2 separate regions of the Homo sapiens genome follow, and region 1 is linked to region 2. A link means that fine-mapping ties the variant in region 2 to the expression of a gene that starts in the linked region. Tissue or cell type: esophagus mucosa. Region 2 holds a variant in brackets; the other region holds the start of a gene. All regions are shown on one strand. Distances are from middle to middle.

Region 1 (12,082 bases), 130 kb after region 2:
GTACCATACACATTTAAAAAACCATATTTTGATTTGGAGATACCCTTGTTTTGAGACACGGCCCTACTCATTCAATTCTGGCAAACCTATACCAAATAACTTTGCCCCAGCTTCGTAGTTTCAACTTCCATGCCTGTACAACAGTCCTTCAGAAGCCCAGAGCTTTAGAAAACCTTAGAGTCAGGGACTCCTATACAGAGGAAGGTCATTTGTCCAAACTTCTGCTTATTATAAGTATAAGCATGTCTCAGGGATACCTGGCAGAAAGTCACCCCTCCTCTATTTCAATACTACCAGTGATGGGGACACCACCTCAATATACGAACTACATTTGCCAGCAACTGGCTCCATTTTCCTAACATTCTAGTCCTTTGAAAAGTTTTTCCTTGTACTGAACTGAAATGGGCTTCCTAACTTTCAACTTCCTATGCTATCACTCCCCAACTCAGTCTCACCAGATAACCTCATCTCCAGCTTCACAGAGAAAACAGAGGAATTTCTTGAGCTACCTGCTTCCTCTCCCCACCACAAATTTATCTGCATAAGCCCCTATCTGTAACTCCTCTCCCTCCAGACATGAGGGCAGGGATGTCCCTCCTCCAGACTAAGACAATCCTGTGTTCAGTCTTTTTAGGGACCTTTGTTCCTTCACTGTTTGTTAAGGAAGCCACTCTTCTAGGACAGACAACACATCAGGAGTGAGGTGGCTATATGGTAATAGCCATCAAAAGATGGCCCTATAGAATACAAGCTCCATGAAGGCGGGGATTTCAGTGCGTCTTGTTCACACACTATCCCCAGGGCTGAGAACAGAGCCCGACACATTGGTGCTCAATAAGTACTTGTTGAGTTAATGAATGAATGAAGTCACACTTCAAACCACCAGTTTTTTCCCTCTCCACTGGCCCTTTCACTTCAGCATAAAAATACGCTCAAGGCACTCCCATTCTATAACTAAAACCATAAAAAACCTCCTTTGGTCCTACCAGTCTCCACCAGCTACCAGCCTTGCTCCCCTTCAGAGGAAGAATCCAGGAAGAGCAGTCAACCACCGTTTGCTTCTATACTTCATTTTAAGTTTACTACTTAACCCACAAAATTTTAAAAATTTTTTTTATTTTTATTTTTTGAGACAGGGTCTTGCTGTCACCCAGGTTGGAGTGCAGTGGTAAGGATCTCAGCTCACCGCAACCTCCACCTCCCAGGTTCAAGAGATTCTCCTGCCTCAGACTCCTGAGTGGCTGGGACTACAGGCACGCACCACCACGTCTGGCTAACTTGTGTATTTTTTTGGTAGAGACAGGGTTTCACTACGTTGGCCAGACTGGTCTCGAACTCCTGACCTCAAACAATCCGCCTGCCTCGGCCTCCCAAAGTGCTGGGATTACAGGCGTGAGCCACCCCACCTGGCCGCCCACACCTTCCAAGCCCACCATGCCACTGAAACGACTCCCCAAACTCAAAAGGCAATTTCCATCCCTTAATTTTATCTAACTTCCCAAAGCATTTGATACTGGCAACTCCCTCCTTGAAAAGCCCCTGCTTTGGTCTTCATGCAGCCACGGCTCCTGGTTTTCCTTGCAATCCCTTTGGCTGCTTCTCCTCTGTTTCTTTCCCTTCCTGTCCTTTAAAGCAGTGGTAGCCAAACTTTTTAGATTTCAACCCTGTCAGCCCAAAATTGGAAAGTAGCCCTTCTTTCTTCTCTCTGTCCCTCTCATCCTCTCCATGTAAAGTATATACTTCTACTATAGTAATAGATTATGTATTTGATTTGTGCTATATTACAAAGCATACAAAAATAAAAGTTTTTAAAAGGATGAGATACCTGTGTAGTATTTTTCCCAATCTAATAATGAGAAAACATCAGATAAACCCAAATTGAGGGACAGTCTACAAAATACCTGACCATTATTATTCAAAAAGAGATAAGATAAAAATAGGCCAGGCATGATGGCTCACACCTGTAATCCCAGCACTTTGGGAGGCCAAGACAGGCGGATCACTTGAGGCCAAGAGTTCAAGACCAGCCTGGCCATAATGGCGAAACCTCATCTCTACTAAAAATACAAAAATGAGGCCAGGTGTGGTGGCTCATGCCTGTAATCCCAGCACTTTCAGAGGCTGAGGCAGGCAGATCATTTGAGGTCAGGAGTTTGAGACCAGTCTGGTGAACATAGTGAAACCCCGTCTCTACCAAAAAAATACACAAGTTAGACAGATGTGGTGGTGCATGCCTGTAGTCCCAGCTACTCAAGAGGCAGAGCACCTGAGGTTGGGAGTTCAAGACCAGCCTGACCAACATGGAGAAACCCCGTCTCCACTAAAAAAATACAAAATTAGCCAGGCATGGTGGTGCATGCCTGTAATCCTAGCTACTCGGGAGACTGAGGCAGGAGAATCACTTGAACCCGGAAGGTGGAGCTTGCAGTGAGCCAAGATCATGCCATTGCATTCCAGCCTGGGCAACAAGAGTAGTCCCAGCTACTTGGGAGGCTGAGGGACAAGAATCACTTGAACCCCAGAGGCGGAGGTTGTAGTGAGCCGAGATCGTGCCACTGCACTTCAGCCTGGGTGACAGAGCAAGACTCTGTCTCAAAAAAGGAAAAAAAAAAAAAAAAAGATAGAGGCTGGGTGCGATGGCTCACACCTGCGTGTAATCCCAGCACTTTGGGAGGCTGAGGAGGAGGATCACTTGAGCCCAAGAGTTTGAGACCTCATCTCTACAAAAACAAACAAAAAATTAGCTGGGTATGGTGGCATGCGCCTGTGGTCCCAGCTACTAGGGAGGCTGAGGTGGGAGAATCGCTTGAGCCTGGGTGGTCGAGGCTGCAGTGAGCTGTGATCACACCAGTGCACTCCAGCCTGGGTGACGGAGTGAGACCCTGTCTCAAAAACAAAAACAAAAAGGATATAAATGGAATTTCTAGTACATTCATCTGGCATCCAAATGGATCACCTAGCATACTCCACTTTGGAGATCTGAGGGCTCCATTCTTGACTCTTACTGCTTTCCTATTCTACATCTCTCCCAGGCTGAGCCCAACTACTCCTAAGGCTGCAAACACCAAAAACACACCCAATTCACCATCTTTCCACACACTTCTCCTGTATTCTATCTTGAAGGATGATACCACCTTCCTTCCACCCAGTGGCTGGAATCAGTCGTCTTTAAATCTTCCTCAGCAACACAGCTAATTAGCCACTGAATTTCATCTTTTTTTCTTATCTCACAAATCCTTTCCCCTCTATGTCCAGGGCACACTCTTCAGGCCCTCTCCAGGTTTGCTAGAATTGGGTGCCTTATGACCCTTGTCATGCCACTCTCTAATCCAGCCTTTCCCATAACTGCTTCAAAATACAGATCTGATCATTCACCCTTCTGCTTAAATGCCTTCTCTCACTGCCCAGAGACTCTGAGGCAAAACCCAAAGCATTAACACCCAAGAAACCTCATCAGCCTTATTTCTGGTATCTCCCCAACTTAATCCTGTACATTTCAGCCCCACCAAACTACTTGCCCCTTTGCTCTCACATCGCCATGCTTTTACACATGCTGTTCTGTTTCAAATACCTTTTCTTCCCACCCCAACTTTTCAACACATTAGCCCTGGGAGGCACCTCCCATGGGAAATTTTCCTCAGCCTCCCCAGTCTGGGCTAAGTGTCCTTCCCTCTAGGAACTCCACTATACTGTGCTATTATCGTCTACGAATGGTGGATGGAATCAATAATAATAAAAAAATGGATCCTATCTCCCTCTTCTACATGACATCACTTCAAATTCCATGTGTTCACCCTTGGCCTTTCTTCTCCAGGCTAAATATCTGAATTTTATCAAATACGCCTCATGATATGGTATTCAAAATCCTAGTTCCCTTCCTCTCTCTCTAGGTCCCTAGTTCTCCCTCTAGTTTGGCAACACTGTTTTAAAGGATTTCTATTTTTGTTTCTGCCTGGAATAGAGAAGTCAGAGCTCTTAAAGATGTTTTCCACTACATCACATTTAGTCATTGTGGAAAATAATAACTGAACCTCATCTGACAAGACTGAGCAATTCAGAAGCTGACAGGATCAGGTTCTTGTTCTGTATGAACTCGGCTATGCTAGTAAGGAAAACATGTTCAAACCATGTGCAGAAGCAATTATTTTATCTCAGACCCAAAACAAAAAAGCCTATACCTCACTGAATCAAAATAATATCAGTCAAAATATTAAAACATGGAATCTCAATAGATGTTCAGTTAAACCACAGGATCAAAGGGAATATTTTTAAAATTTCAAAAACTGAATTAAAATTAATTCCCTCAAAGTATCTCAGTAGATCAGAAAGACCTTTCCAGAGCCAGAAACAGAAGAAAGAAACAAAGAACTCGAAAACGTTTGGGGCATGGATACAACGTAACTATCATTAACACACAAAACCCCCGCACCTCTAGGGACAGAGATCTGCAGATTTCAAGAGCATACTGGTGCAGAATTAAATCGCCATTCCACAAGCAGGACCTCCCAACACCTCACATAGGTTTTTGGTTTGTTTGTATGTTTGTTTTTGCTTCTGAGACAAGGTCTGGCTCTATCGCCCAGGCTGGAGTGCAATGGCGCGATCTCGGCTCACTGCAACCTCCGCCTCCCGGGCTCAAGCGATTCTCGTACCTCAGCCTCCTGAGTAGCTGGGATTACAGGTGTGCCCCAACACACCCGGCTAATTTTTATATTTGCAGTAGAGATGGCGTTTTGCCTTGTTGGCCAGGCTGGTCTCAAACTCCTGACCTCAGGTGATCTGCCTGCTTCGGCCTCCCAAAGTGCCGGGATTACAGGCGTGAACCACCGCGCCCGGCCTCCCATAGGTTTTAAACTGACACACTGAGATCAGAGCACCCATTCCTCCAAGCCGTTCTCAACTTGGCCTCTTGTTCACTACTGTCTGTGCCTCCAGTCTCAGTCCCCATCACTCCCACATTCTCACACAGTAATAGCGTTACTTGTGCAACACAACATATATAATGGAAAAGGCCGATGCGCTGGCACCACCTCATCTGAAATCAAATCCAGCACCCAACCTGTTTAGTGTTGGGTAATTTATTTAGGTTGATCACCCTGCAAAACAAAGATGATGCCCTCTAAGGACTGCTGTCAAATGAAATACATTACCACATGATATGCAGTAAGAGGCCACGTATTAGCTGATTTCTTCACCTCTTGCTGAATGCTTAGGAATCTAGGTTCTACTCAGAAAGCTACCATTTATTGACATGTGACCCTAAAAATGCGACTCACATCCTGTTTCCAAATCCTTAAAATTTGGAACTCTGACAAACTATTGAGAGGTGCTTTGTATTCGCCTTAAGAAATATAAGTCATATAAAAATAATGACTCCATCTCAACTTTTGCATCCGGAAATATACATAAGGGAAGGGAGGGGCAGGGATTTCAGCAATTACTGATGACAACCACTAGAAATGAAGGCACCATACAAATGCAAAAACATCGTGGCAGCCAGTGGCAGCTAAAAAGTCTGCCTTCTCTTCTTCGCAGCGGGCTGCGACTCAATCCCAGTTCACTGAGAAATGCATCTCCGTACTCTGAAGGGCCTTTTCAGGCGCAAGAAGCCGGCCGGACGCGCCGCCCTCAAAGTGGAGGGTGGAGGCAGGCTCAGGGGCCCCCTACGCAGCCCAGCCCCGGCCCCGGCGGCCCGTGAGGCCGCGCCGCCACGGCCGATCCAGAGAAGATGCTGACGGGGACGCGGCTGAGGCGAGGCCGCCGCTGACGGACCGCACTGCGGCACCTGCCTCGCAGCTACTCGCCCGCGGCCGCCCCCGACCCCCAAGCCCCGCGGCGCAGGACCTCCCCAGGCACGTCCTGCCGGCCCCCGGCTCCTCACCCGCCACCAACGCCAGGAGCACGACAAACACAGCCATGGTGCCGCGGCGGCCGCAGCACTGCGGGGCGACACGGAACGGGCCGGCGGGACACGGGCGACAGCCGCAGCGTGAGGAGGTGACGCGCTCGGACTCGTCCAGGCTCCCGGGTCCCGTCCCTTCGTCGCTTCCGCTGGGACAGCTGCCGCTTTCTCCACCAATCACCAGTTACGCCGCGGCCTACGGAAGGGACGTAACCTGGGAAGCGACAGCCTGATAGGCGGGACTTAAAGTAACGGATGGAGAGTTCTACCAATGGTAGGCAGCGATTGAAAAGTCGGGCAGTCCCGCCCCCCGGTCGGTGATGACGGGTCAAGAGGTGGAGCGTAGGGCGGGTAGTCGGAATGGGTGATGGAGCTAGTCGAGGGGTCCCGGAGCCCACGGGGTGAGGGTGCCTCCCGAGTGCAGATCTTTCTGCCAGTCTCGAGCGACGGTCTCCAACCAGGGTGTCTGTCTTTCCTGGTCGTGTGCCTCCGCCCGGCTACGGACGCCAGCTGTGAAAGGCGGGGCTGGTTGGGGTTTCGCTCTAACAAGTATACAGACGCCGAGCACCTACTGGGAAGAAGCCAGGCGCAACGGGGAACCCCTGCCTTCCACATAGTGGTGCCAGATAAAATACAGGGCGCCCAGTTAAATTTGAATTTCATGTAAACAACGATTATTTGTTATTATGTCGCAATTAATTTATGGGACATACTTGTATTAAAAGAAGTATTACTGGTTATCTGAAATTCAAATATAACTGGGTATCCTATATTTTGATTCGCTAAGTCTGGCAACTCTACCTCCAAAGACTTTCCAATCTACAAGGAGTCATGGGACAGAAAGTTAATTAATTACTTAATTTGTCCATTCACTCAGTTTCCAATCTGGGCAAGGTGTTCTATGAGGATGTATGAAGGCTAGACATAGTAATTAGACCAGGCTCCTCCCCTCCCGCAGTTCATAGTCTTTTGCCTATGATGTGAGGCAAGAAGGGACACACTATAGCGTCTGTAGGTAGAAAATGACGCCCCAGCTGATGACCTTGAAAGGTGGAAATGATTTCATATCCAAGGATAGGAGATGGGGAGATTGTTCCAGTGAAAACTGTAGTTAAGGTGGGGAGAAAGCCCCGTCAGGTTAAGCATCAGTAATCAAATAAGAGATTATATGAGAGAGGAGGCACAGAGCTAAAACTTTCAGTTAGGCACATTTATTGAGGATTTTAAATTGTACATAAGAGACCTACACTAAGCCATTGAAGGCGTTTGAGCATGATTTACTGCACAAATGTAAGACAGACTTATTGGCGGGGGGGAGGGGGGGAATGCCTTACTGTTTCTTCAGTTTCCAGTCCCATTTTCTTCTTGGAGTTTCCTGAGGATGAAAAAATGAGAGCGAGTTAAAAACAGTGACCCCAGGAGTTCCCCAGGTAGCAGACCCACCCTAGGAAAACCTTGCCCAACTGAAAACTGAATCAGAAAGACACTCTCGAGGCCAGGTGTGGTGGCTCACACCTGTAATCCCAGCGCTTTGAGAGGCCGAGGTGGGAAGATCCTTTGACACCAGGAGTTGAAAACCAGCCTGGATAACATAGTGAGGCCCTGTCTTTTTATTATTAGAAAATAAAGAAAGCAAAAAAAGAGAAACACTCACTAAATAGTTTGAACTTTCTAGAACACACTATGCTTACCAAAGCCACTCTCAAATTTAGGGAACAGAGTCGATTTCCTCACCTAACGTCAAGAAACAGGAAACTCTCAAACTTGCTTTTCCTCTAGAGGAGAATTTGTACAAATGGGACTTTAGAGAACTCTGAAAGGGAGAAGAGAGATTTTTCCATCAGGCATGTGAAATTATTAGAACCAAAATGTCTAAAGCACCCCTCCAAAACATCCACTCTAATGTGACTGACTCGAAAAAAATTAATCACTTTTTTTGTTGTTGTTGAGACGAAGTTTCCCTCTTGTTGCCCAGGCTGGAGTGCAGTGGTGCGATCTCAGCTCACTGCAACCTCCAACTCCCGAGTTCAAGCAATTCTCCTGCCTCAGCTTCCCAAGTAGTTGGGATTACAGGCGCCAACCACCACGCCCGGCTAATTTTTGTATTTTTAGTAGAGACGGGGTTTCACCATGTTGGCCAGGCTGGTCTCGAACTCCTGACCTCAGGCGATCCACCCACTAAAGCCTCCCAAAGTGCTGAGATTACAGGCGTGAGCCACTGCTCCCGGCGGAAAAAAATTAATCATTTTTAAAAATTCATTTTTAAGCATGATAAATTCACAATCTTTTCACACCAACTAAAATTCTTTGTCCATCTCCCTGCATGTCTTAGAACAGGTTTTGAATCACAGGCCCTGCAAGAACTTATCTAAACCTTATTTAGGGACATAATCAGCTAAAAGTGGAGCAGACCTCCTGCCATTTCATCCAGCTTAAGGAAACAGGGAAAGGAGTGAATGTTTCTGTTCTTAAGACTTCTAGTACATTCTTATTTCTTTGAATTTGAGGAAGATGAAAAAATTTGTAAATAGACTGGAATATAAAATAAGTCCCCACCCCCCCATTCCCCCAGAAAACCTCACAATCTTTCACAATCCATTTATGTCTTGAGAAATAACATCCCCTTTTGAGCTAACAGCGAATAGTGTATTCTTTACACCTAAGGGCCCTTTTCACCTGAGGTTGCAAAGGGGCATTGTTGTTCTCTACAACCTTGGAATTTAGCAAGATAAACATTGTCGGAAGCCCTCTCCTTGTTTCATAGATTGAGAGATTGAAGCCTAGGGAAGGGCATATGTACTCAAGGTCATATTCTGAATCGTCAGCAGTTCTGCTTCGTGAATGCAGCCCTGCTGATTCAATCTTTAGCGCTCAGTAAACAACTGGTGATGTGCGGTTAACTTTTCCACTGAAGCATTTAGAGATGGATATGTGTGTAGCAGGGTAATACAATATTTGAAGTTATGACCCCATTTGTTAGCCTAAAAGAAGCCTTTCTCCACCCTCCCCACAGGCCAAATAGGCAAGACTGCAGCCATCCGTTGCCCTGAGGGGAGGACTCTCAGGAGAACCTGAAAACAAATGTCAAATTCTTGGCTCTTGAGTTTCAAAACTAGAGGTCCAGATGCAAGATTTGAAAGAATACATAATTCCATTTGCTTCCTTAAGTCTCGCCCTCGTCCCCCAATTAAGTCCAGCAGTGAGTTCTGAGTGATCCCGGAGTGAGCGCGATAACATGAGCTGATCCCTGCAAATGAGACATCCCATCCAGGAGCCCTGTGGAGGCGAAGATCATGCCCCTCTCCCAGACCATGCAGTTAAAATTAAGAATTTATGTTCTTCAAAAGGTACTATATACACTATGGAAAGGTGTGGGGGAGGGGAGAGCAGCTTTGCAGTGCAAAAACCCAACAAATACTATCTAGGCGATGTGATCAAGGTCAACACCAACAGTGATCGGTCATGTTGACAGTGTGTGCCCTTGATGTGATACAATGATAATGGCAGGCACTTCACCTCTATGATCTTCCTCCCCCATACCCATAACCCCAGTGTAATCATGAGAAAAACATCAGATAAATGCCAATAGAGGGGCATTCTACAAAATATCTGACTGCTGCTCCTCAGAAGTCATCAAAAACAAGGAAAGTCTGGGCTGGGCGCGGTGGCTCACACCTGTAATCCCAGCAGTTTGGGAGGCCTAGGCGAGTGGATCACTTGAGGTCAGGAGTTCAAGACCAGCCTAGTCAACATGGTGAAACCCCATCACTACCAAAAAATACAAAAATTAGCCAGGTATGGTGGTACGTGCCTGTAGTCCTAGCTACTCGGGAGGCCAAGGCGGGAGAATCGCTTGAACCTGGGAGGCGGAGGTTGCAGTGAGTCAAGCTTGTGCCACTGCAATTTAGCCTGGGCGACAAAGTGAGACCCTGTTTCAAAAGAAAAAAAAATTAGCCAGGCATGGTAGCGCATACCTGTAGTCCCAGCTACTGGGGAGGCTGAGACAGGAGGATCACTTGAACCCAGGAGGTTGAGACTGCAGTAAGTCAAGATCTCATCATTGCACTCCAGCCTGGGTGACAGAGGGCAACGCTATCTCCAAAAAAAAAAAAAAAAAAAAAAAAAACCCAGAAACTATATTTTTAAAGAATCCAGCATAGATGACAAAAGTTTAAAGAAAAGCAAGGAAATGGTTACCATAAAAAATTAGAACAGTGATTACCTCCAGGGTGGAGGGGAGAAAGATATGTCTGAAAGAGACATGGAGAAGTATTTAGGGGTGCTGGTCATTTCTGAATGGTGGTGGTGGTTGTCACACTAGTGTTCATTTTGTGATTATCCATATTCTGAGCATTGATATTGTATGTTCACTTGTGTGCTGTATTTTCCAGTAGAAAGGTTTTAAAAATCTAGTTTGCTTTTTTTGAGTCTTGAGAAGGAGCACTTCTTTTTGACTTGGTAGAAATTATTTGTATGTGGTTTCAAATTATGTTTGCAAAATCTTGTGTTTACAAAACATGTCTTCAGTGAGTGTGGAAGTTTCCAAAGAAAGGCCAGTGTTGTGGTTGGCATGCTAATGGCTGTCTTCCGAGAGATAGTAGAGATGCTATCTCCTGTGGGAATTCACTATGAGGCAAAAGCCAGGCTTTGGCCTTCCAGCCTGAGAATCCCAGTTCTATCAGCATCCGAGAGTTAATCCAACTGGGTGACATCAACCCAAAATAATAAACTCATAAGATCTTAATGTTGCGAACAGCAGTTTGTTCATTTACAGTGAGATATATAAGTATGTAGTAGTCTGCATATTCATGTCAACCTGGCTAGTGTTTTCTCTCCAAAAATGCAAGTGACATAGGACTCTTTGAATTAGTCAGAATAGACTTGGTGAGTATACAATCAGAGCAAATATTTAATGCATTAAGCTCTGTTGTATCCATGTCCACATCTGGAACGTACACACGAAGCAGACTGAATATTTGTTTCAGACTGACAGGGCACTGTAATAAACCATATATTGGGGATGACTACAAGGACCACACCTTGCCATTTATGATAGCTTCCCACCGTTTCCATGACCTCTACGGTCCTGTCTGTACCTTTTTTTTTTTTTTTTTTTTTTGAGGCGGACTCTTGCTCTGTTGCCCAGGCTGGAGTACAGTGGCGCAATCTCAGCTCACTGCAACCTCCGCCTCCCGGGTTCAAGCGATTCTCCTGCCCCAGCCTCCTGAGTAGCTAGGATTACAGGCACATGCCACCACACCCAGCTAATTTTTGTACTTTTGGTAGAGATGGGGTTTCACCATGTTGGCCAGGATGGTCTTGAACTCCTGGCCTCAAGTGATCCACTCGCCTTGGCCTCCCAAAGTGCTGGGATTAAAGGCATGAGCCACTGTGCCCGGCCCTGTCTGTACTTTATGAGTCCACATCCCTGGCAGACTAAAGCAGGAGTGGTCACATGACCCAGACTGGGCCAATGGGCTTCTCTATCCTAGAATTCTGGGATTGAGGCCAAAAGATGCTAGTGATTCTTGTATAACAGTTGAACAGGGAGACCTATGAATTACCATCTTTTGCCACATACTCAGAGGTGGAGAAGCTGGGCTGCAGAAAGAGAGGAGCAAAGCAAACATCCAGAGACAAGTAGACAGGAAAGACCAAATGTGCCTGCAATTCCTGCCAGCTCTAAAATTATTTTCTCATCCGTGGGGAGACTCAGCTGCATCCCCTGATTTAGAACTATGTGTGATGGCCCAGAATTCTTATAACTCAACCTCCTCTTCTTTAAAAATTATTGTTATTATTATTATTATTATTATTATTATTATTATTATTATTATATTTTGAGACGGAGTTTCGCTCTGTTGCCCAGGCTGGAGTGCAATGGCGCAATCTCAGCTCACTGCAACATCTGCCTCCCGGGTTCAAACGATTCTCCTGCCTCAACCTCCCGAGTAGCTGGGATTATAGGCATGCGCCACCATGCCTGACTAATTTTTGTATTTTTAGTAGAGACGGGGTTTCGCCATGTTGGCCAGGCTGGTCTCGAATTCCTGACCCCAGGTGATCCACCACCTCCGTAAAAATTATTTTTAATTGTAATAAAATACAGGTAACATAAAATTGACCATCTTCACCATTTTAACTGTACAGTTCAGTGGCATTAAGTACATTCACATTGTT
Region 2 (8,000 bases):
GGGGGCCTGCCGTATTCCAGGCTGTGGCTAAACTGCACAATGGATTGTCTCTATTTTATTCTAGAAGTTAACAGACTGTGTTGAAAAAAATTCTTCATTTCATTTTTTTCTTTAGTCAACAGGTTCTTGGGAGAAAAACTGGAACAGCATCTGTTCACAAAGTTACAATTAAAATTGATGAGAATGATGTCTCCAAGCCTTTACAGATTTTTCACGATCCTCCTTTGCCAGCTTCTGATTCCAAATTAGTAGAAAGAGCCATGAAGGTAAAAGATCTCAATATATTTTCATATTGGTTTAAATGAATGTAACTTGCCATTTATCCTTAAACTCTTAGCACAAATTTTTAAAAATATCTAATTCTTCCTAAAACCTTTTATGAAACTTATTTTAAGTAAATGTTACACTTCTTACATTTGTTTTTTTAAAACATCTGATACTATAATATATAATTTTTAAGATATTCTTTCATATTTTATAATTTAGATCAGATACCATTTTAATTTTAAGGTCTGGCATTAGAGCACCATAACTGATTTGTAATATCTTCTCCTATTACTTACCAAAATGTTAACTATAGTTTTTAAGCTATCAATTGTAAGTTAATTTTTAACTCAATACCATATTAGTTAATTTTTAACTTTAAGTTTGCTTTCTATTAGGGTTAACACTTAATCAGTGTGATTCCAAAAGGAAATATTTTGAAGCACAGTAATCTACTCTTGGGCTTTTAAAGTAAAAATGTTTAAATTGCACATTTGAATTTGTTGTTCTTATTTATGCAGATCGACCACTTATCAATAGAAAAACTCCTGATTGACAGTGTCCATGCAAGAGCTCATCAGAAGCTCCAAGAACTGAAGGCCATTCTTAGAGGCTTCAATGCCAATGAAAACTGTAGGTTCTTTTAAATTGACATTTGTTTTTCTTTTGTTTAAACTAGAATCCAGTTTTATTTGATGAGAATCTTAATATGACTTTTTCTTGATATTTTGCTTTTATTGTGGAAGCTGGTATTTCTGCATTTTAACTTGTGATCTGCCAAACTTATGCTAATTTTTCCCTTGTTACTTATTTAGCTTGGCCTTATTTTTGAAATATTTGTGTATTGGATTTCCTTAAAACTTTATGAAATGGGGCTGGGCATGGTGGCTCACACCTGTAATACCAGCACTTTGGGAGGCCGAGATGTAAGGATCACTTGAGGCCAGGAGCTTTAGACAAGCCAGGGCAAAAAATGAGACCCCGTCTCTATTTATAAAATTTTTTAAATAAAAAAGAAAAACTTTATGAAACATGAGCTAACATTTTAATATGAACCTTATTTTTAAACTTTTTTCTAGTGATAAAACAGCATTCCAAATATTTATAATATACTTGTAAAATATGCCCCTTTGAGTGAAGCAGAATTCATCCCTTGTCTTTTTAAAAAATTTTTAAAAATTATTAACAGTTCAAATAAGGAATGCAGATACATGGACATAGTGAAAAATCTTCCAAGTTTAATTACCTAGTAAGTATATTCAGAGCTTTGAGGGACAGTCATTTAGAAAGTAAACCCTTTCATTCTGGGAATATAGGTTCGCAACATCATAATGGGCATATTTACTATCCCTGCCCCAATTGTTTTTGGCCATAATTACCTTGTGCCCACAGTGCACAGTCTTTAATTAAGTTAGATGACGTAAGTGAAGTGCCTTATAAGTAGGAAGTCTTAATAGTGCTAGTAACGAAGGTGCTGCCTTTTGTCATCACAGAGCTCAGCTCAATCCATTATACTTAAAGAAGCAGCTTCTTAGGTATGTACTAGTAACTCTGGATTAAAATCACTTTGACAGAAATAGATTTTAAAAAATTGCCTGAAGGAAAGACAGAAAGTTAGAAAAATAAGTGTGTATTTAGAATACATACTCATTCAAGGAAAGTGAAAAGATAGAGGTGAAAGAGGGGATCTAAGATAAACCAAAGCATTAGCTTATATTTTTAAAGAGACTAAGGAGAGGGGCAGCCTAACTTAACAAAAATGCAAATATGGGCCTTAAAAAAGAAATAAAGGATCTGCCAGAAATTTGGTGAATGTATTGGTTAGATGTGTCTTGGGGGTGCCTGTCCATTAGCCCTATCAGGGTTTAACATTAGCTTTATCAGTACTTCATTATCTTAATTTAATTAAAAGCTTCAGTAGAAGGCCCTCCCCTTTAATCCCTCAAGCAAAGATGTTAAATACAGACCTAAAAATTATGATTGGAAAGTATAATTGAAACTCTCACTGGAATTAGAAAGGCTACTAACCACCACTGCCTTTTCGTCTTTTTTTCTTAACAGCTTTATTGAGATATAATTCACATATAATTACCTCATTCAATGGTTTTTACTGAAAGAGTTGTGCAACTATCACCACAATTTGATTTTAGAACATTTTAATCATCCCAGAAAGAAACCGTGTACCCATTAGCAGTCACAACCCATTCACTCCTCTCCCTTCCTGCCTCCCTTTTGGCAATCATTAATCTACTTTCTAACTCTATAGATTTGCCTATTTGGACATTTCATATAAATGGAATCATAATGTGTGGTCTCTTACATACTGTTTTTAACACATTTTTTTTGAGGTTCACAGCATGTTTCAATACTTCATTCACTTTTATTGTCAAATAATCCATTGTATGGCTATACCATCTTTTGTTTATCCATTCATCATTGTTGAACATTGGGGTTGTTTTTCTTTTTTGGCTATTGTGGATAATGCTGCTATGAACATTCATGCCCAAGTTTTTATGTGGACGTAAGTTTTCATTTCTCTTGGCTGTACACCTAGGAGTGTAATGGCCGGGTCTTGTAACTGTTTAACCTTTTGACGTGTTTAACACCACTTTACAATCTAACCAGCAATGTGGGAAGGTTTCATTTTCTCCACATCCTCACCAATACTTGTTATTGTTTGCATTCTTTTACGTGAGGATATGCAGTTATCTCAGTAACATTTGTTGAAGACTATTTTCTCCTGTTTAATTGTCTTGTCACCCTTGTTGAAATTCCCCTTTTGTTCTTTTTTAAGAAATGGAGTCTCACTGTGTTGCCCAGGCTGGTCTCTATCTATCTATCTATCTATCTATCTATCTATCTATCTATCTATCCATCTATGTATCTATTTTAAGTCCATGGCCTGCTGAACAGGCTGGTCTTATGCTCCTGGGCTCAAGCAATCCTACCACATTGGCCTCCCAAAGTGCTGGGATTACAAGCATGAACCACCATGTCCAACTCTTTTGTTCTTAAAGAAGACTTTAAGTATTTTGCAATCTTAATTTTTCTAATTTTTCAAAACTTCGTTTGTTGAGATTCCAGAAAATAGGGAGTTTGTAATCTTTTGATAGGCTCTGGTTTACTTTAGTATCATCTGTAAGCAAGGCTTAGTAAGTTAAAAAACAGAACAAAAACTTAGTAAGTTAAAAAACAGAAACAAAAAACTATGATTGCCAAGGGATAGTTAAATTACTTTGAAAAATAAACTCAAAGCATACGTTTACATAGGAATGGTTTTGTGTGCTGTTCACCTAGGTTCTGAAGATTTCTAAAGAGAAATTTAGAGAAATCTTCAGAACCCAAGTGTAAAATTCCTTTTTGTAGAAATGTTAGAGATCTGAGTTCAGCTGTCTGCTCTTGAACAAGTCATTTACACTATTTGGGCCATTCTCCTCATCTGAAATTTGAGGATATTATAATAGTCCAGGCTCTTCCTAGATCTTAAACTCTAGTAGGAATGTGCTACACCAGTGGTTTTCAAGCCCTAGGTGTTTTGTAGAGTCCCAGGTGTTAGAGAAGGGTGACTTAGGGACTATAATTTGGAAGGAAGGGAGAAGCTTGCATGCGGGGTTGATCTCCTCAGTTCTGCTTTAATCAGGACAGTTCTAGAAATGAGGACTGCTAGAGGAAAGGGTCTGCCGACCCACCATCTTAGGGCATGTGCTTTAACTTGTTCTTTAAATTCATGTGCATGCATTTATACTCTCCATGTAGTCTTACTTGATCCTTTTTTGTGATGGGCGAGCATGCTTTATTAAGATCCTTACTGGGATGAGGGACTACATAGTCTATTCTTAGAATCCCTTAGCGCAGTCACCCTTAAATCAGCTGGCTTTTCTTCTAACACCTAACTGGAATAACCCAAGGAAATGAGTAGCTCAGAGAGTGGAGCATTTCAAGGGAAGGCTAGGGGAAGGCATAGACTTCAGGTTTTGAGCAGCTCAGGCATGTGGTTTCGTGGGGGTAGAAATGGTTTAGGGGAGAGGAGGCAGGACTTTGGAGATAAGTTCCAAAAAAGCAGTGCAAGGTACTAAAGGTAACTTGAGATATGGCCCAGTTGGCAGCATTGCCTAACTCTTGAAAGCCAGGGTGCTGCTCCCTTATGTTGTACTCTACCCTTCAGCACTTATAATCAGGGCATCATGATCAGTTTGGAAGCT[A/G]TGAACCACACACAGCCATTCCTAATTGAGCTTAGTTGCCGCTCTTCACTCTTCACACTTTATATTCTGTCTGTTATCCATTCTCATCTTGTTCTCAATAAATGATAGAAATAAAAGGAGATATATATATGTTCTGGCAGGACGAAATAGCAGCAAGTCCTGTCATCTTACACTGCTTTTAATTCCCTCTTCTTTATTTTCTTTGCAAGTTTCCCCATTTTTGTATACCTAAAACCTGTTGCCTTTAAATGCTTTAGGGCATTGTGTATTTTATTTTCTGTAAAGAAAAATATGGACATTGGTAGTCAAAAAATTGTACATCGATTTGTATCAGAGTATTTCTTGTCTTTTGAACTGTGTTATCTGTATTCTTCTCTGATGCCCTATTTTTCTAAGAATACTCAATTGTGGTAATTAGATTGAAATTATAATTGTTACCCCAATTCCCAGAACTAGTTTTACTCTGTTGCCACGCTTTAGAAATGGTTTTGCTTTAGAGAATTCACTCCTACCCTGTCAGGAATTGTGACACTATGGAAATGTTTCAAAAATCAGCAACTCTGTTTCACATTTGTAATAACTTTTTATTAACATAGTAAGTTCAGCAAAATGTCACTGATTTGAACTAATTTGTCACATTGGTCTGAATTATATGGTAAAAGAAATTTTTGTTTTTGCCCTTTTTGTTCTGTTTTTTTCAGGTCAGAGTTCTGCTGGATTTGCATGTTAAACATTTTGTATACAAATATGTATTAGATGTACAGGTTGAGTATCCCTTATCTGAAATGCTTGAGACCAGAAGTATTTCAGATCTCGGATTTTTTTTGGGTTTTGGAATATTTGCATTTGTACTTACTGGTTGGGCATCCCAAATCTGAAAATCCGAAATCCAAAATGCTTCATTAAGCATTTCCTTTGAGCATCATGTCAGCGCTCAAAAAATTTTGGATTTTGGAGCATTTCAAATTTTGGAGTTTAGGATGCTCACCCTATGTTTTAAAGCAATTTATTTCTCTCTAATTAAATATGTCTTCTGCAATCTTTTACTTTATTAATTTGTTTGATAATTTGTGTAGACAGTACCAATGGTAATGTCATCCATTTGAATTATTGAAAATTTATAGTAAAAGGTTTTGGTTTGTTTCTTTGATTCAAAAGGAATATAGATAATATACATTTGTCAAACACTTTGCTTTTTAAAGCACTTTTACAGCCTTGTCATTTCTTGCTCCTAACAACCTGTGGCATGGAGGGGAAGATGTTATTTTCCTTGTTTGACAAAAAAGCAGGCAGAAGCCACGCCTGGTGAAAGGCCTGCATCGCCACTCCCCTCTGCGCCTGCCACGTTACCTCTCCTTCCGAGCACCTGCATCACCATTCTCCTCTGTATCTGCCTTTTTTTTCTGTGCTGTAGCTTCAGAGGAACTTGGTAACAAGAAGAGCATATTCCTTTTACAACCCCTCAATCTGATCAGCACTTAGTGTGTTTTCAGTGTTTTGCTTGTTTACTGGATTTCATTATGTCACTTGCAGAATTAAGAGAAAAGTTAATTGGGCCTCGTGGAAATACTGTGAAACTCTAGATCAGGCATATTGTCAGCTTTGGGGATTTGTGTTTAGCAATTGCCTATGTTCTTAATTCATCTGTGACTTGAAATGGAGTATACAAATGACTTGAAAAAAATTTTTCTTCCTGGGTAATCAATAATATTTATTAGTTTAAACACATGGGCTCTAATTGCCAGAATACCTCTTTTTTATGAGGAATGGCATTGAAAATCATGAGGCCATAGAAGATATTTATTCTGTTTATAAACAACTAGTTTTCTTTCCATTATACAAAAGAGAAAATCCTTAAAAATTAATTAGCTTATTAGTAATTACCAAGTGAAAGTAAAACTAGAACTCAGCTCACTGATGAAGTTGAATTTTCACTAGCTATTTCAACCCTCTTTAAGAAACTTTGGATTTTTTTTGCTGTAGTATTTGAGACAGGCATGTTTGTTTCAAGTCACCTTGAAAATTACATTCTTTCCTTTTTGAGCTGCTAACTGACATAATAATACTATTGCAAATTTTGCAAAATCATGTTTTTCCTCTAACATTTAGGATCCTTCAATAGTTGGTTTGTTTGTACTCATTGATTGAGAAATAATTTTTCTGGAAAATATTCAGATAGAAAAATAATTTTTAATTCTTGATTGTTCAGCTTCCATAGAGACTGCACTCCCAGCTCTTGTTGTTCCCATCTTGGAGCCCTGTGGTAATTCAGAGTGTCTGCACATTTTTGTAGATTTACATTCTGGAATGTTTCAATTGATGCTTTATGGACTTGGTAAGTTACTAAATGATATAATCATTCAATGTAAGAAAAATTATTTTTAACAAAAACAAAATAAACATTTTCTGTCATTAGGTATTAGAAAGAATGGTATATGCAGTGTTGAAAGTGGGTATGGAAACCATAACTCTGACTGATGTCAGTTCCTCGGGGCCGTTTTAACTACTTTGGATTTTCTTGTAGCAGATGTTAAACTTCCCAGTATAACGCACATTCGTGTTTCCTTATGCAAAATTAATAATGTTGATGGCTGCTGTTTTTTAGGTTAACTTATCTATCCCAGTAGCTCAGTTTCTATTTTACCACTGGGTGACATGGAAATCACAATAAGGAATTCTAATGTCATTTGTGGCTGAAGAACATTTTTATGACAGTAGAAACATCTAAGATGACTTGAGGTACAGAATCCTGGAGGAAAGGATTTTTTTTTCTGGCCTAAACACAGTAGAAATTAAAGTTTGATTTCTTACTTGTTCTGTTACTGAGTCAGTGTTATGAAATGATGAAATAAGAATTTAGTGTTTTTGTATTGCTACTGGACAGTGTTCTTGAATATATTAGGACATCTGCTATTTGAAATTAATATTCAGCTAGAAAGGTTGAAAATAAAGGGCTTTCTGGTTATATTTTATAGCTATAGATTTTTTTTCTATGGGCTGCTCATGGAAAACTGAACTAATTACTTTGAATGACATCACATTTATGATGGCTAAATGACGCATTTATGAATTACTTTAACTGTGGGTTCCAAATAAGGCAAATGTTGTTTGTTCTTAAAAACTTATATTTAGGCCAGGCGTGGTGGCTCAAACGCCTGTAATCCCAGCACTTTGGGAGGCCGAAGTGGGCGAATCACAATGTCAGGAGATCGAGACCATCCTGGCTAACACGGTGAAACCCTGTCTCTACTAAAAACACAAAAAATTAGCCAGACGTGGTGGCGGGTGCCTGTAGTCCCAGCTACTCGGGAGGCTGAGGCAGGAGAATGGCGTGAACCTGGGAGGCGGAGATTGCAGTGAGCCGAGATCGCGCCACTGCACTCCAGCCTGGGCGGTAGAGCGAGACTCCGTCTCAAAAAAAAAAAAAAAAAACAAAACTTATATTTAACTGTTTTTCTGATTATTAACATAGTACATACTCATAAATAAAAAACTTAAACACACAAAAATTAGAAAAGCAACAGAAAATAGTCT

Direction of the effects. Alleles are on the strand shown, and positions count from the first base shown. SD is a standard deviation of normalised expression in the study named.
For the expression in esophagus mucosa of the gene that starts at base 6,014 in region 1, allele G in region 2 goes with a lower level than allele A (moderate effect, 0.40 SD a copy in GTEx).

Evidence for each region. PIP is the estimated chance that this variant, and not a neighbour inherited with it, causes the effect.
Region 1: it holds the start of ATP6AP2, and the variant in region 2 is the best candidate, but not a certain one, in a credible set for the expression of ATP6AP2 in esophagus mucosa (GTEx, PIP 0.79).

The regions. Positions count from the first base shown.
Region 1 is chrX:40,574,902-40,586,983 of GRCh38, reverse strand. It overlaps ATP6AP2 (ATPase H+ transporting accessory protein 2), which reads right to left and starts at 6,014. Exons shown (of 9, transcript NM_005765.3): 1 at 5,882-6,014. The coding sequence starts at 5,918. RefSeq lists a silencer at 5,635-5,944 and enhancers at 6,105-6,314, 6,365-6,514.
Region 2 is chrX:40,702,245-40,710,244 of GRCh38, reverse strand. MED14 (mediator complex subunit 14) reads left to right here. Exons shown (of 31, transcript NM_004229.4): 9 at 116-266; 10 at 786-897; 11 at 6,676-6,801. Among named protein-coding and RNA genes, the nearest start is that of MED14, 29 kb to the left of the region's middle. The variant A/G (reference allele first, on the strand shown) is at 4,467.